Homo sapiens: one gene and its partners. The protein of the gene in region 3 purifies or fractionates together with the protein of the main gene of each other region. This does not show direct contact. Each region holds a gene or a part of one and is shown on either strand. Other genes may lie near its edges. The genes, in order: DNAJA1, HADHA and MAP1B.

Region 1 (3,754 bases), on a different chromosome or scaffold from region 3:
AACCTAAAACTTCTTCAAGCTCATATAGCAAGCCAACAGAGCCAGGGCTGAAAACTGGTTCGTTGCCTGCCATCTATCTATTCTTGTTTCAGCTTTATTGTGTCAAAATTATGTATTTAATATGTTTATCAGGAAAGTGGCCTATGGGCTCTAGAAATACTGCTTATAGGAGTAAAATGTTCAAGAGAAATCAGTCTCACTTTATTTCCAGTATAGTGTATACAAATAAGGGCTGATGAGCAGAACCAGTTTTAGAATGAATGGCCAAGCCATTAAATTTCACTTTGAGCTTCTTAAGGTTCAGAAAGATTTGGGAAATTGTTTATTCAGTTTTTCTTTAAAGATCTTCAAGGAAAGGATTATGTTTTTATTAAGATACTTAAACTCCTTAAAAAGAAAGTCCACAATCCAAATGACTTGCTTAGTAAATTGTTAGAATTTGTCCACAAAAAAGTAGTGGTGGTTTTTCACTTACCTTACAAAGAACCTGCAGGTTAACATTGGCAAGCTCTTTTATGTGGCTTATGATCATATTGAGAGGTTATTTCTGGGGAAATGCGCTTCATCAAGCTCTAGAAGCTTTATTTTTCCTTCCTTATACTCAACACTGTTCAAAATAAGGGCAGCTAGATTTTAGCGTGCCAAAACTAAAGGTGGAACTATAAGCAGAAGGACATAATTAATGGTATTTCATGCTTGATTAGAAAGTTAAAATGTTCATTAGGCATATTGTACAGAAACGAGTTTGAGAACTTTTTTCAGTTGGTGGAAAGGCAATAATATTGTTGTGAATAAGTCCTTGTGGAAGGACCACTAGTTAGGAACTTACTAACTTACTAGCAGGTGACTTCATACTTCTAACCTCAGTGTCCTTATGAGATCTTGACCTTCCATTTCCTATTCTGATTTAAGTGAAGTAAGGCACTCCTTAGTAGCCACTGGCCATGTGTGGCTCCATTAATTTAAGACAAAAACAAAAATACGGTTTCTTAGTCTAAATGGCCACATTTACATGCTCAATAAGCACATGTGATTGGTGGCTGCTACGTTGGACAGAACAGATATAAAACATTTATCACTGCAGAAAGTTCTGTTGGGCAATGCTATTATAAAAGGTATGAGAAATTTGGCCTTCAAAACAACCAGTGCTGGCCCAGCAGTAAATGGGCTGTTTTCTACTAAATCAGGAAGAAGTAGAAATTGATACTCTTCTGTGGTGACTCAATAAATACATCAGCTTCCCTGGCCAATCTTGATTAATGAGAATTTACTGTGCTACAGAATTTTTGGATGAAGTAATTGGCCATGTTGCTCAATACGGTACGAAGTGAAAGCTTCAAAAAATATATTGTGACAGAAATGAATGTTTGGATTATTGTGAAATGTGCCCTTTTAAATAACATTGGTTTTTCTCAAGTGACTTTGAAGGTAATGCTTTTGCTTACCATATTTCCAAGATGGCCACGTCTGTGCCCTTAAGCAAATATTTAATCTCTGACCTGATTTTCCCTCATCTGTGATTACATCACAGTTTGAGGATCATCTGTGATAACGTGAACATTCTGTGTATATAGTAGGTAGTCAACAGATGTACCCTGTGAGGCTCATCTTTTATTATTCTTTGCCACATTCTTTATAGTGCCTTTAGCACAAATAAGATCCAGCATCTTAAACAGATTTGCAATGAGAAATATTTTGTTTTAGGTAAAAATGTTGTACATCAGCTCTCAGTAACCCTAGAAGACTTATATAATGGTGCAACAAGAAAACTGGCTCTGCAAAAGAATGTGATTTGTGACAAATGTGAAGGTACGGTGTTTTTTTGTTTTGTTTTGTTTTGTTTTTAAGCACCTTTAATATGACACCTGAAAATGGAGCTAAGACTTCTAGATAGATATGTAAAATTGATTCATGTACACTACCTAGATTTTGGGGGAGGAGAGGGCAGATATGAAGAAAACCAACTGAAAACCTCCCACCTAAAGAAATATCAGCACTTTTTTCTGTGTATATTTTAAATACAGTTGGGATCAAGCTAGTTTGGTATCTTTTTTGTAATAAGTAAAATTTATTGGAAAGTGTGTTCTAATAAGAATGAAACTCATTGGAATGATCTCATCAGTTGTACATTCAGAGGGTAGCATTCCATCAGGCTTCGAAAATATTAAAAGTATAGCATTTAGGAATTGTCTTCTTAAAACATTTACTACTGTATACACTACTAATTCATACATTATTTAATTTTCTTTTTAAATTTAGGTAGAGGAGGTAAGAAAGGAGCAGTAGAGTGCTGTCCCAATTGCCGAGGTACTGGAATGCAAATAAGAATTCATCAGATAGGACCTGGAATGGTTCAGCAAATTCAGTCTGTGTGCATGGAGTGCCAGGGCCATGGGGAGCGGATCAGTCCTAAAGATAGATGTAAAAGCTGCAACGGAAGGAAGATAGTTCGAGAGAAGAAAATTTTAGAAGTTCATATTGACAAAGGTGAGTTCTGAGTTACTTATTCTGAAGTCTTGAATGCTGTGGCAGATTTATTATTAACATTTTATAATTGTTTAAAAATCATTCTTAATTAGGTTATATATGATCCTATCAATCAGAAATAACTCTTAGCAGCTTAGTAAATAATGTTCTTTTATCCAGACATAATTTTGCACATTGGTATATTACTAATACAGAATATATTAGGAATCTCCTCATTTAATATAACAGGATCATCTTTTGAAATCTGTGGTCCTGTAAATGATTGAATAGTGTTCCAAACTTAATTCTCTCCTGTTAAACCATAGTTCTTCCATCTTTTAAAACATTAGAATTGTACACATTCTTAATTAGGAGTTACTAGATCAAGGGATAGGCATACTTTTAAGGATTTGAAAGGGGAGTTAGGTGAAGAATTGGGTCTCATAAAAATTCATGGTTTTTTTGGAGACGGAGTTTCGCTCTTGTTTCCCAGGCTGGAGTGTGCAATGGCACGATCTCAGCTCATTGCAACCTCTGCCTCCCGGGTTCAAGCAGTTCTTCTGCCTCAGCCTCCCAAGTACCTGGGATTACAGGCACCCAGCACCATGCCCGGCTAATGTTTTGTATTTTTAGTAGAGACGGGGTTTCACCATGTTGGCCAGGCTGATCTCGAACACTTGACCTCAGGTGATGACCTGCCTCGGCCTCCCAAAGTGCTGGGATTACAGGCATGAGCTACCGCACCCCGCCTCATGTTTATTTTTTAAACCAATGGGCATGTTTTTGTTTGTTTGTTTTTTTCTGAGGTAGAGTCTTGCTCTGTTGCCCAGGCTTGAGTGCAGTGATGCGATCTTGGCTCACTCTAACCTCTGCCTCCTGGGTTCAAGCGATTCTCCTGCCCCAGCTTCCCAGGTAGCTGGGACTACAGGTGTGCACCACCACACCTGGCTAATTTTTTTTGTATTTTTAGTAGAGATGGGGTTTCACCATGTTAGGCTGGTCTCAAACTCTTGACCTCAAATGATCTGCCTGCCTTGGCCTCCTAAAATGCTGGGATTACAGGTGTGTGCCACCATACCTGGCCTGGGCTAGTTTAAATAAGCGTATTGGCCCACTTAATTGGCTTACTTGCCCATCTATTATATTTAAATGCTCCGTTAATTGATTTGATAGACTACCTTTCATTTTTTTAGACTTGACACTTCCCTAACCCATTGGGCTCCAGATTTAGAAATAACTATATAACCTTTTTTTTGTATTCTCGGGATTTGATTGATTTGTCAATTTT
Region 2 (3,754 bases), on a different chromosome or scaffold from region 3:
TGGCGCGATCTCGGCTCACTGCAAGCTCCACCTCCCGGTTTCACACTGTTCTCCTGCCTCAGCCTCCCAAGTAGCTGGGACTACAGGCGCCCGCCACTATGCCCAGCTAATTTTTTGTATTTTTAGTAGAGACGGGGTTTCACCGTGTTAGCCGGGATGGTCTCATGGATCCAGAAGTTTAACACTCTTTATGGAGAAATGATGTTGCTGCTATTGTGCTATTTGAAGCAAAATCATTCTTAACCTTCTATTTGAAGATTTGTCATCAAATATTGATGCATGATAGGATAAGTGTATAGTGAATAAGTATTGAACCAAATAAATTATAGTTTTATCTTTTTCTCTGTTCTCTACTTTTATGGATAATGCAGCATGTTAGCCGCTTGCAAGACCCTTCAAGAAGTAACACAGCTATCACAAGAAGCACAGAGAATAGTTGAGAAACTTGAAAAGTCCACAAAGCCTATTGTGGCTGCCATCAATGGATCCTGCCTGGGAGGAGGACTTGAGGTATAGATATTCTAAAGTTATTGAGACACTGTCCAACTCATTGGTGGCATTCATCAGCTGTAAACCCTTAGGCTACTGCTTTGCCTGGAAAAAGTTTCTGGAGGAGAATCCGCTTTGTTTTTTGTTTTTTGCTTTGAGACGGAATTTTGCTCTTGTCTCCCAGGCTGGAGAGCAATGGCACGATCTTGGCTCACTGCAACCTCTGCCTCCTGGCTTCAAACAATTCTCCTGCTTCAGCCTCCCCAGTAGCTGGGATTACAGGTGTGCATCACCATGCCCAGCTAATTTTTGTATTTTTAGTAGAGATGGGGTTTCACCATGTTGGCCAGGCTGGTCTCAAACTCCTGACCTCAGGTGATCCTCCCGCCTCGGCCTCCCAAAGTGCTGGGATTACAGGTGTGAGCCACTGTGCCTAAATAGCTTTGTTTTTAGTTATCAAACTTCTGGATAGGTGTTAATCCTTAATCCACATGACACAGAGCAAGTGGCACAAAGCAAGTAAATGAAGGTGTGATGTTTTCATTTGAACTGCATCTCTAATGTCCTTTTCAGCTGTAAAAATCTTGTTCAAGTTTGCAGGGCAAAGATTCAGAAGTGTGATCTAGGCTCTTAAGCTACTTAAGTCTGGTTGAGACACATAAAGCATAATATAAGTGCTTTGTCAGTAGTAAAGACGGTAAATAATAGAAGATTTGAGAGAAGAGATGCTTACTAGACCCGAACATGTAGGAAAGAAAAGAAGGGGAAAAGGAAACATTCATTGAGCACTTTTCACATGCTGAACTCTGTGCCAGACACTTTCACATATGCAGTCATTTACCACATAACGTTTCAATGACCAATTGCACATACAGCAGTGGTTCTATAAGACTGTAACACTACATTTTTCTATACCTTTTCTGTGTTTAGATACAGAAATGCTTATCACTGTGCCACAGTTGCCTACAGTATTCAATAGTCACATGCAGTCCAGGTTTGTAGCCCCTTAGGACAGGGGTCCCCAGTTCCCAGGCCATAGCCTGTTAGGAACTGGGCCCCACAGCAGGAGGTGAGCAGTGGGCGAGTGAACATTACCACCTGAGTTCCGCCTCCTGTCATATCAACAGTGGCATTAGATTCTCATAAGAGCTGGAACCCTGTTGTGAACTGCACATGAGAGGGATCCAGGTTGCGCACTCCATTGGCCTCTATTGCCTGATGATTTGAAGTGGAACAGTTTCATCCTGAAACCACTCCCTCCCACCCCACCCCCAGTTCTTGGAAAAATTGCCTTTCACAAAACCTGTCCCTGGCGTCAAAAAGGTTGGGGACTGCTGGACTAGGAGCAATAGGCTATCCCATATAGCCTAGATGTGTAGCAGGCTCTGCCATCTGGGTTTGTGTAAGTACACTCTGCGATGTTCACACAACAACAAAATTTCCTAATGGTACATTTCTCAGAACATATCCCCCTCATTATGTGACACATGACTATATTAATTAAGAAAACCTGTGCCTGGTCCTAAACTATAAGCAGAATTTGATTAACCAGAATATGGAGGGAAAAACAATTCCGCATATGGTATGGTGTGAGCAAAGGCAAAAGCAAAGCCAACTAGGACACTGTAAGTAGACGTGCTTGATTGGAGAGTCCGGGGCTTTTTAACCTGGGGTCCATATAAAATTGTGTGTGCATTTTTCTCTTGAGAGCTTCTCTAGCTTTCAGTAGATTTTTTAGGAGATCTACGGCCCAAAAAGAGGTTAGTAAATTAGAGGAAAAGTATGAAAAAAAGGCTAAAAAGGTAAATTCTAGAAATTATTAAATGCCAGCCTAAGGAATTTCAGTTTATTCTGTGAGCACATTCCTGCTTTATAAATAATCTTTAGACCCTTATCCATCTCAAGTTGCTACTAAGTTACATTTTCTAACATTCTAATTTTCTTTCATTTGTTCAAAGGTTGCCATTTCATGCCAATACAGAATAGCAACAAAAGACAGAAAAACAGTATTAGGTACCCCTGAAGTTTTGCTGGGGGCCTTACCAGGAGCAGGAGGCACACAAAGGCTGCCCAAAATGGTGAGTCTAACATCCCCTTTGTGAAGCTATATGCCCTCTTTAGATCTGTTTTCTTGTATAAAATGCATAATATGGGCATTCATTGTAGAATTAAAAAACCAAATAAAATATGAGTGTACAGGATCAGTGACAGACTTTATTCCTGGTACTTATTTTTTCAATTCCACAGATTTTTTTTTTTTTTTTTTTTTGAGACAAAATCTTGCTCTGTAGCCCAGGCTAGAGTGCAGTGGTGTGATCTCAGCTCACTGCAACCTTCTCCTCCCAGGTTCAAGCGATTCTCCTGCCTCAGCCTCCCCAGTAGCTGGAATTACAGGCGTGCACCACTGCACCCAGCTAATTTTTTATATTTTTTAGTAGAGATGGAGTTTCGCCATGTTGGCCAGGCTGGTCTTGAACTCCCGACCTCAGGTAATCCTCCCGCCTCAGCCTCCCAAAGTGCTAGGACTACAGGCATGAACCACCATGCCTGGCCTAATTCCACAGAATTATTGATCAAGGTCCTTTGTTAGTCTCTGAGGAAGGATAAAGATAACTAAGATGCATGTCTTGCATTTCTGGAGCTTATGGTTTAATTGGTTCCTTTTCCACATAATACCATCTTAACAGTTTTTCAAAACCATGAGTCATATTAATATTTCATTACAAATATAAGAGGCAGACCTTTTCCCTCATTGTCTGATTTGGATGTTCTCACTGCTGTGTTGTATGGAACCAAAAGAGGCTCAGCAGGCTTTGAATTCCAAGGAGAAGGGAAGGACAGTCAGACCTGGATGCTGCAGAGCAATCTTAATGTCAACTCAAGGGCCCACTGAACCTTATAGCTTCTGGCACTGTAGATTCCTCAGTGAAAACAAGGCTCAACAGAAATACTCTTTGCAGGGAAGTTGATCTCAATTGAGCACAAAAGAAAACAAGGTTTATGGTGTTAATTTTCTAATAATAATAATGTGCTTTCCTTCATAGGAATGTCATAAGGATTTATTGAAAGAATGAATATGCATATATGTGTATCAAAAATATTTGCTGAGTTTCTTTCTTTCTTCTTTTTTTTTTCTTAAACTATAGCTGGTATTTGAATGTTGCTAGAAGCCTTTCTTCTAGTATGCCATATAAGCAGCCCTAGCTGAGTTCTATTTTTGTTAAGCTTAAAATTCTTTTTAAAGACTTTGTCAAAACTATCAGGT
Region 3 (3,754 bases):
AAGTAATGCACCTTGTTTATCTAGCTTACATGTTTATAGCAATTACAGAAACAATTCAGACCCATCCCCATAGCAGGTTGGGGCCTGCCTGTGGCCGATAGCAGATTTCTACATGGAGGGACTGAGGGATGTTCTGATAAGAAGAGTCCCCACATCTGTTTAAAACTGTCTTTCTGAGGTGGTGGCTTGTCTGTCTCATGTGTACTGTGAAGGGCCACGTGTCCTTCTGCACTTAATTTTCCTTGGCCCTGAGGTTCAGAGAAAGCTCTGTTTGTACTTTTCATCACTGGCAAGAACTGTAAGCACACTGCCCAACTTCATCTGAGTCACCTGGAGGCTTCTTTAAAAACACTGATCAGAAGGCATAATAATGTTCACTCTCCAGCCACTGGGGTGGGGAGAATGTAAAACTGTGAAAAGGAACATTTTTGAAGCCACAGCTGTCAGAAGGTGTGGCGTCATCTGCATCTTGAAACACATACCAGGATGGGATCCCCCAGGCAGGCAGCTCCTTTCTCAGAGGCTTCAGAGCTCACTCACAGTTGGTTCATCTTTACCACTTCAAAATGCAAGCTTTGGCTGTGTCTTCTTCCAAGGCCGCTAGAGTTCACGCATCTTGCCTCATTCATCTCGGTATCCATTGCACCTGCACATAGTAAAGGCCTAGTAAGCCGCTGTTCAATTGCATTGAAATTCCAAAGCTAGGGCTACAATTCTCACTCTGCCTACTGTCCTGAAGTTGTTGTTTGATCACTATAATGTCAGAATGTTTTGCAAGATTATGTCCCCATGTGCATGTTGTACCCGGAGGCAGGTGGGCATTTGTCTAGTAGCTCTGGGGTCACACACATTATTAGCATCTTGCCTCAGGGAAGAGAGAAAGCTGCAGAAGGCTGGAAGTGGCCCAATGACATGGTGAGCAGTTAAGTGGCCTGCTTATAGCTCATTTGCATGCACATGGGCACTTTCCACATTCCTGTGCAGTTCTGTAGTTATTTTCTAGTGGTTGGTTTCTACCCAAGTCATTGGTTTGTCTTTTTTGCCGAAAAACCAGACAAAGGAAATATGTAAAGAAAAGTGTCATTGCCAAGATTTTCAATAAGGAAGTAACACGATTTGGCATATTTGCATCTCAAATAATATCCCTCCTTCCCCTTCTTTAAATAAGGTTGTTATGAATATTGCTGCTTAATCATTTTTACTAGATTATGGAAGCAAAATTTTAGCACCATGGACTGTGCACGTGTCAGATTTTGCCACTAATTACAGAAAAAAAAATTTGCCCTAACTGAAGAACTCGAGTTCCGTGGAAGGGCAGATTCCCCAGGGTTTATACTTATTGGGGTAGGTTCTGGAGGACACATATTTTGATTATACTCAGGCAGGTATCATTATGGTCAGAGACCATGTCATATTCTCTTCTGCCACCCACAAAGAAAGGATGCCACAGCTAAAGTGAATTGAAAACCACTGGACTGGACCAGTGGTTATCAGCCTTTTGGAGCTAGGATTGCCCATTGTTGCCTTGGAAAAATGGTTGAGTAACTGAATAACAAACGGACCTTGAAGACCACTTGTTGTCCAGCTCTTTTCCTTTTATCCAGTCCTTGAAACATACTAGTTAACTCCAGGGAAACCAAAACCACAATTTGGGACAAACAAAAATGATACTTTTTAAAAAATATAAGAACAGCTAAAAATAAATGGACTGAAAAAATAGAACTATCAGTACACTTTGAGCTTCAGGTTTTGGAGTCTTAATCACTGGAGATCAATTAACAAAACCAGAACTAACAGACGGTACAATTGTCTGGCTAACCCCACTCCTCCCTGAAATCCAGGGATGGTGAAATCATCATCTCCTGGGGACATTTTTCAGTCTCTGTGTTGGAAAGTTTTTCCTTATTTGTCTCATTGTATCTTCAAGGAAGTGATGTGATCCCTTTCCCACCTACAGTGTCTTAGTTACCCTTCACCAACACTGCCGATTTTTTCCCTTTCAGATTAATCATCTTCAGTTTTACCCACAGTTCTTCATAACCCTGCTCACTGTCCTTCAAACTTGTTCCTCTGTCAAGAAAGGGAGGTGAAGGCCAGGTGCTATGGCCCATGCCTGTAATCCCAGTACTTTGGGAGGCCAGAGTGGGAGGATCACGTGCGGCTAGGAGTTCTAGGTTGCACTCAGTTATAATCTGCACTGCACTCCAACCTGGGCAACAGAGCAAGATTCTGTCTCTTAAAAAAAAAAAAACTATACTTAAAACATTAAAAAAATAAAATAAAAAGAAGAGGAGATGGGATGGGTATGGGGGGAATTCAGGAGTTTAGTCCTGGTCATGTTTTAGTGCCTTGAAATCAGACAGTTGGATTTATGAGAACAGAGCTCAGGGAACTCAGAGTCGGGCTGGAGATACTAATTTGAAATCCATTAGCATATTAGAGGTATTTGAAGCCCAGAAGACACATGATGTGACCTAGAGTGAGAAACATTTTAAGAAGAGAAAGGGCCCAGGTCCAGTGTTGACAGGTCATAAGGCCAAGAGGAAGGAGCCAGTAAGGGAGACTTGTTTCAGGTTTTTGCTTGTTGGTCTAATTTCTCTAAAATGTCATGACTCAAACTGGACACCCTATTCAGGAGTCATTTGACCAGGTTAGGATTGTGAGAGTTGATAATGTCTATAGTTTTCAATACCATCTTCTATTAAAGAAGTCTAAAAGTGACTTTTGACCATCACCATACACCATTAATGGTCAATGGGGAAGTCAATGGGGAAGAGATGCAGGCTTTGAGGGGCTCGACAATTTATATAATTTAAGGGCTCTTTTTTAAGAAAAATGAAACAATTATTAATATACAGTTAAGTACAGGGCCATGCCAATGAGGTACCTTGAAGTTTAAGCTTCTTTGGCTTCATGATAAATCCATTTGACTGTCAACTAAAATCCCTGAGTCTTTTCCATGGATATTATTGTTAAGCCACATCTCCCAATCCTGTAGTTTACCCTGCTGGTTTATTGAACCTTACATTTATCCCTTTAGAATGCCATCCTGTTAGAATTGACTTAGCCACCATCATCCCAATGTCAAGAGCTTTTATAAATACCTTAATTCTGCCATTCCACATTTTGCTGTGTCTCCCATTTTCATACCATGCACAAATATGATATGCATGCCTTCGCCATTTTTATCCAAGTGAATACAGGCCAGAAAATGAGACTTGAGGCAGCCCATCATAGACCTCCCTCCAGGTTGACATTAAGCAGCACTATTTATATGGCTGGCTGGAAATCCACCTAATTCTACTATCACACTGTTCAGGGGTCCTATTAAATGTCTGGCTAAAACCCAGAGATACACTGTCTACTGTATTTCCTCATCAGCCAAGCAAGTAACCTAATCAAAAAGGAAATGTAGTTCGTAGGCCATGGTTTAGAAATTCAAATCTTGTTTCATTAATCTCATCTGCAGTAAAACCATTTATTTCTTACATCTTCCTTCCTCTTCCAGTATGCCTGCATTTAATCAGAAAAAGTAATTAACAAAAAAGATTATCTTTGTCCCAAAGCATATTCCTCCTTGTTGCATCTGTCATCCAACTTTGTAAGAACCAGGGTAGCACTCAGTGTGGTTACATCTGAAGTACCCACTCCAGGAAGATAACATGTGTTGAACTGGCCAAGTTTGGCACACAGATCAACAAACATCTACTGAGCCTGATTATGTATTGAGGAAACAAAGATAACTAAGATACAA

What was found.
Region 1: the proteins of MAP1B (region 3) and DNAJA1 purify together in Homo sapiens (affinity purification with mass spectrometry; 2 studies listed by BioGRID, with this or other methods). This does not show direct contact.
Region 2: the proteins of MAP1B (region 3) and HADHA purify together in Homo sapiens (affinity purification with mass spectrometry; 2 studies listed by BioGRID, with this or other methods). This does not show direct contact.

The regions. Positions count from the first base shown.
Region 1 is NC_000009.12:33,028,181-33,031,934, forward strand, and holds part of DNAJA1 (dnaJ homolog subfamily A member 1), read left to right. Parts: intron 1-1,704; coding exon 1,705-1,809; intron 1,810-2,259; coding exon 2,260-2,487; intron 2,488-3,754.
Region 2 is NC_000002.12:26,230,973-26,234,726, reverse strand, and holds part of HADHA (trifunctional enzyme subunit alpha, mitochondrial precursor), read left to right. Parts: intron 1-371; coding exon 372-510; intron 511-2,447; coding exon 2,448-2,567; intron 2,568-3,754. UniProt on the Homo sapiens protein: Mitochondrial trifunctional enzyme catalyzes the last three of the four reactions of the mitochondrial beta-oxidation pathway.
Region 3 is NC_000005.10:72,187,457-72,191,210, forward strand, and holds part of MAP1B (microtubule-associated protein 1B), read left to right. Parts: intron 1-3,754. UniProt on the Homo sapiens protein: Facilitates tyrosination of alpha-tubulin in neuronal microtubules. Phosphorylated MAP1B is required for proper microtubule dynamics and plays a role in the cytoskeletal changes that accompany neuronal differentiation and neurite extension.